Linked DNA regions of Homo sapiens: region 1 is linked to region 2. Evidence: fine-mapped expression QTL. A gene starts in region 2. The other region holds a variant in brackets. All regions are shown on one strand. Distances are from middle to middle. Region 1 has its middle 22 kb from the start of VDAC1. Region 2 holds the start of VDAC1 (voltage dependent anion channel 1).

Region 1 (2,902 bases), 22 kb after region 2:
TCTCTTTTAAGCAATCAGATCTCATGATAACTCTTTACCATAGGGAGGGCACCAAGCCATTCATCATTCATAAGAGGTTCACCCCCATGAGTCAAACACCTCCCACCAGGCCCCACCTCCAACACTGGGACTCGCACGTCAACATAAGATTCGGAAGGGACAAATATCTAGACCATATCAGAGGCTCAAATTGAGGTGAGGGCAGCAGTAGGGGTGGGGGAAATGGATGAATTGGACTTATTTAGGAAGTAGAGCCAGTAGGATTCAGTGATGGAGGTGATGTTTCCCTCTCTCCCTCTCTCTTATTTATTTATTTATTTTTATTTGAGTTCTCACTCTGTCACCCAGGCTGGAGTGCAGTGGCGCAATCTCTGCTCACTGCAACCTCAAACTCCTGGGCTCAAGCAATCCTCCCACCTCAGCCTCCCGACTAGCTGGGACTACAGGTGCACACCACCATGCCCAGCTAAGTTTCTTTTCATTTTTTTTCATAGAAATAGGGTCTCACTATTTTACCTAGGCTGGTCTTGAACTCCTGGCCTCAAGCGATCCTCCCACCTCAGCCTCCCAAATGGAGGTGATGTTTCTAGCTGTGGAACTCAGGGTCTGGCCCAGCCTCTACTGGGTTGGAGGAGGGGCAGGTTTAGGGAAAGATGTGAGTTTGGATTGCCATGGGCAGTGCCAACCTTCTGCCTTTTCCACCGAGCCTGGCCTGGGGGAGGGAGTTGCCTGGAATCACCACCAGTCTGGCCACGGGGAGTCATTGCCGGGCAAGCAGCTAGACATGATTCCAACCCTCACACTCCCTGCCCTCATGCAAATCCGAACATCCAAGCCCTGAATTAGAGAGATTCTAAGGGAGAGGGATCTCTGCATCTGCAGGAAAAGGGAGAGGGAAATAAACAAAGTTGGCCCAACTTTTTTTAAACATCACTAAATGGCTGGGTGTGGTGGCTCACGCCTGTAATCCCAGCACTTTGGGAGGCCGAGGTGGGCAGATCACGAGGTCAGAAGATCAAGACCATCCTGGCTAACCGTCTAACACGGTGAAACCCTGTCTCTACTGAAAATACAAAAAATTAGCCAGGCGTGGTGGCGGGCGCCTGTAGTCTCAGCTACTCGGGAGGCTGAGGCAGGAGAATGGCGTGAACCCGGGAGGTGGAGCTTGCAGTGAGCCAAGATCACGCCACTGCACTCCAGCCTGGGTGACAGAGCGAGACTCCGTCTCAGAAAAAAAAAAAAAAAAAAAAAAACACTAAACATTTGATCAAAATGATAGAAAAATGTCCCATCCCCACTGACTCCCCTGGCTGCCACACACCCTAGCTGGCCTTATTTGCGGCTTCCCTGGCCCAGTCTTAGAGCCAGGGCTTTACCAGCCAAGCCAGCTGCATTCCACCTGGCAGGCAAGTTGCCTCCCTGTGGACTGGAGCTTAATGAGCCATGGGTGCACTCCCACCTACTCACCAACAAGTGGCAGCACTCTCCAAGCCCGTCACCCCAAGCCTGCATGGATCTGCACAAAGGTAAATTCTCAAGACAGATTTTCCCCTGTGTGAAACTGGCATCAGATTCCCTCATTTACAGATGTGGAAACTGAGGCTGCTGAAGAAATGCTTCTAAGCCTGAGCTGCAAAGATTTCATTCCCACTA[G/C]AGCGTTAGGCTGGTTTTCTGACCCAGTTCCAAGGGCAACCTGGCCCTGGACTCCCAGGGGCATTTGACAATATCTGGAGATGTTTTTAACTTCACAGCTTTGGGGAAGAGGTGTTGCTACTGGCACCTGCCAGGTGGTGGCCAGGGGTGATGCTAAGCATCTTACACAGGACAGGCCCCAACCCCGCCCTATAAAGAAATGTCTAGCCCAGGATATCAACAGTGATGAGGTTGAGAAACACTGATTCAATCAGATTCTCAAGAGTCAATGGCCTGCAAAGTGCTGAGACGTCCCTGGATCAGGGGCCCCTGGATAGGATGATCCCAGCCCTCCTCCCTCTCCCGCCCCATCAGCAGCCATGAGAGGGGCTCCCGTTGCCTCCTTCACCTGCAGGTCTCCCTCAGACCCACTGCTTCATGACCAGTTCCCGAGCAGCAAGGTGTGCAGGCGCTGTGCCGGGCCCTGGAGAGAACATGGGGGACAAGAGAGCGACAGCCCCTCCCTGCCTTCCTTCCAGCAGCTCAGGCTGCAGGGAGAGACAAAGTATTTGCAAATGTGACAAGTGCCAGGGTGGGACAAAAAAGGGACTGAGACACAGAATAATACAGAGGGGACCAACTTAAACAAAGAAGATTGGAAAAGCCTCTGAAAAGGTGACTGCTGAGCTAAGGTCTGAAGAACGAGCCACCCACATTAATTGAAAAGACAACACAACCAACACTAACTTTCATTTGTTTCAATTACCCGTGATCTTCTCCCTGCCCACCTACCATGACTGCAACTCTGTTATTTTTGGTATAATAAATTCATTTCCAGATCTTGCCTACTTTTTTTTTTTTTTTTTTTTGAGATGGAGTCTCGCTCTTGTCACCCGGGCTGGAGTGCAGTGGTGTGATCTCGGCTCACTGCAACCTCCGCCTCTCAGGTTCAAGCGATTCTCCTGCCTCAGTCTCCCAAGTAGCTGGGATTACAGGCGCCCACCACCATACCCTGCTAATTTTTGTATTTTTAGTACAGACAGGGTTTCACCATGTTGACCAGGCTGCTCTCAAACTCCTGACCTCAGGTGATCTGCCTGCCTTGGCCTCCCAAAGTGCTGAGATTACAGGCATGAGCCACTGTGCCTGGCCATGTCCAGGTATTTCTATAGCATTTTAGCCATCCTTTGAGTGTGTGTATACATTTATATATTTATTTATTTATTTATTTAGAGACAGAGTCTCACTCTGTTGCCCAGGCTGGAGTGCA
Region 2 (2,902 bases):
TGAAGGCTGGCCCTCGGTAGTCTGCTCTGGCCTTCTCCTGCCTCAGTGGAGAAGTTTAGGCAACAGAGGAGCCCTTTCCCCTATCTCCCCAGGAGAGGGGAGGCTAGTCAAGGGGACAGGGACCCCGGGCGGAACGGGCTCTAAACCAGGGTCTGCTCCTGCATTCAAGATCTCCACATGCAAACTTACTGCTCCAGCTTGACAATGTCCATTTGTAAACTTACAAGATTTTTCATAAATTAAGCTGAAAGTTACTCAATACCTGGTATACAAATGCTTGTCAATAATAGTGAAAGAATGTTTAAAAACAGGAGCTACATTTATTGAACCCCTTCCACAACGCCACGTGTAGCAAAATGGTCTGCGGGGGATGGGCTGGATTCACCCAAAAAGCCCCAAGGGTGTCAGGGTTTCTACTTAGCCCTTCTCCACACCGGCACTGTTCTAAAGGTTTCATGCTAATTAATTCATTTTATTATTCCCCAAAACTCATCGAAGGAGAGGTACAATTGCTCCCGTCCTATAGATGAGAAAACGAAGGTATGGGGACTTCCCAGCTGTGTGACCTTGTACAAACCACTAAGACTGCGGGCCTCTAATCCAAAGTCAGGCTCCGAAACAGTTTCCAGAATGCACCGCCGCATTTGGCGAATGAATGAACGACCGAACCAGTAATCACTCCTAAGACCAAGAAGGCCACATCCTTCCCCGTGGGGCCTCCTTTTCCGAGGCCAAACCTTCAGCCCAGGCCCGAGCTCCGGCCTCTACCGCCTAAGTCGACTCTCGGCCGGCGCGTTCCGCTCTAGAAGGCTCTGGCACAGGCGGGCGGTGCCGGGCGCCAGCTTCTGCGGGCGTGGGCCGGCCAGGGCGCGTGGGCCTGGGGACTCGGGGCCACGGTCGTCACGTGAGCTCATCCCCGAGGCGGCAGCGTGGCCGGCACCCGCCCGCTGGCCTGGTCCGGCGAGCGTGGGCGGCGAACGGGTCCCCGCCGGATGCACGCTGGTGGGATCCAGGGCCAGAGGGCGCCGCCGGGGAAGGTCACCTAGACGCGCGGCCCGCCGGGCCTCCACGCGGCCGCCCTTGCACTTCCGCCCGCAAGCCCGGGCCGCCTCTCGCCGCCAGCCGCAGGCGTCTCTGGACCCTCGGCCTCGCGCTCCCCAGCCCAGACCTGTTCGGCACCCGCCTGTGCGGCCTTCTCTGCCCGCCCGCTCACCAGCCAGGCCCGCGCCGGCCGCTCGCGATCCCTCCCCGCGGCCGGGCTGCCGGGGCCCCTCGCCCGCTCCTCCCTCAGCGCCTCCCTCTCAGCTCCCCAGGGGCCTGGCCCCCGCCGTCCAGGGCGCAAGGAAGCCGGGGTCCTTTTCCGCTGCGCCTACCTCAGAGGATGTGGCGGCGGGCTCGGAGGCGGCTACGGCGGGGGCTGCGACGCGGAGGCAGGGAGCCGAGCCAGGGAGCGGAGCCGAGCGAGCGGCTGGGCCAAGGGCGGGGCGGCGCGGACGGCGGCGGCGCGGACCCGCCTCCCCTCCTGCGCGCCCGGCCCGGCGCGCTCCGCCCCCAGGCCCCGCCCGGGACAGCGTCCAGGCCGGGCCAGGGTCCCCATCCCGCTAGCGAGCCGCGTTCTTACCCTTCCGGGCCCCGCTGCCCCGGCAGCAGACACAGGAGCCTGCGGGCGTGTTGCGGGCGCGCGGGAGGACCTGCGTGAGTCGGGGCACGGGGAGGCGCCGGACTGACGTGTGCACCGTGTGTGCGTGCGCAGGGACACGCGGGTTCTTGCTGGAAACCTCGGCCCCAGTGGCAGCGCTCGGGAAGGGGGAGGAGGCCTTCCGATTCTCTGAGCTGTGGCCCGGAGGTCCCTGCGCTAATGGAAGACGCGCGGGGCTCCTGGGCCTCCTGCTTGGCCTCCGCGCTGCTAGATCCCCCGGGAGTTGATGTGGCCGGCGCTGGACCCAAGCCTCGCCTGGGTGGACAAAGTGGCCCCCGGCCCCCCATCAAAGCCCGCGTGGGCCCCATCCCCCGAGGGCAGTCCCAGGCCCAGCGCGGACACTGGGCGCCTGGGGCGGCGCAGATACAGAGTAGAGGCGGCGACTGTTGCTCCCGAGCTCCGCGCTCCGGATACAATGTGTCTGGCGCCTCCGACCCGCCCGCGCGGCGTCTAGACAATCTCAGAGAAAACCCCTGTGCGCCGATTTTGCACTACAGATTAGCGATTTTCTCCTGTAGCAAAGCTACTAGCAGCCAATTTCCATGCATTTGAGAGGCAAAAAGACAAAATAAAACAAAACGTGGATTGGGTTTTGCGAGGTCCCTGCTGGGTCTCTCGGCGCGAGGAGATCACGCCGGTTATGGCCGGCCGGCCGACTGAGGGCACCCCGGGTAACCCCCGCGACCAGCCGGGGCGTGTCCTGCGGGACCCAGTTAGTGTGTGTTGAGTGAACGGTCACCTCGCTGCTAGGCCTAAGCGAGTGGTCTCGTTCACCACTGAGTGTCCCCTGTGTTACGCGCGAGGCCCACTCGAAGCAGGTTTCGAGAATTAATTCGTAGATGGACGAAGATTCTACACATCCTTCGCCTTTGATCAACAAACGTCCTGGAAGGCTTGAGGCGTCTAGGGCCCTGTGGAGGAGGTGCCGGGTTACAGAATCAGGACACTCCTCACAGCCAGCTGCGACACTATCTAAAGCAGTGGGCAACTGGGGCTACGGAGGAGGCAATCAGGACTGGCTGCTGGGAAAAGGCGGCAGATTAAAAGTGGCGACTGGAGTTGGAAAAGGTGCTCCAGTGGGATAGGGTGCTGAGGAAGAGGGCAGCTGATACAGAGTGGGAGTGGGGTGCAGACAGGTTACCTAGGCCCTGTGTAGGGGCTGGGGGAGGGGTGACTGGGAATGTAAGGAAGAGCCCCCTTCAA

Evidence for each region. PIP is the estimated chance that this variant, and not a neighbour inherited with it, causes the effect.
Region 1: its variant is the best candidate, but not a certain one, in a credible set for the expression of VDAC1 in lung (TOPMed, PIP 0.70).

Annotation. Positions count from the first base shown.
Region 1 is chr5:134,025,287-134,028,188 of GRCh38, forward strand. It overlaps a transcript of VDAC1 not described here. Among named protein-coding and RNA genes, the nearest start is that of VDAC1, 22 kb to the left of the region's middle. The variant G/C (reference allele first, on the strand shown) is at 1,654.
Region 2 is chr5:134,003,274-134,006,175 of GRCh38, forward strand. VDAC1 (voltage dependent anion channel 1) reads right to left here and starts at 1,702. Exons shown (of 9, transcript NM_003374.3): 1 at 1,622-1,702. RefSeq lists enhancers at 426-475, 486-535, 2,186-2,305, 2,376-2,435, 2,476-2,545 and silencers at 766-1,805, 1,866-1,925, 1,966-2,015.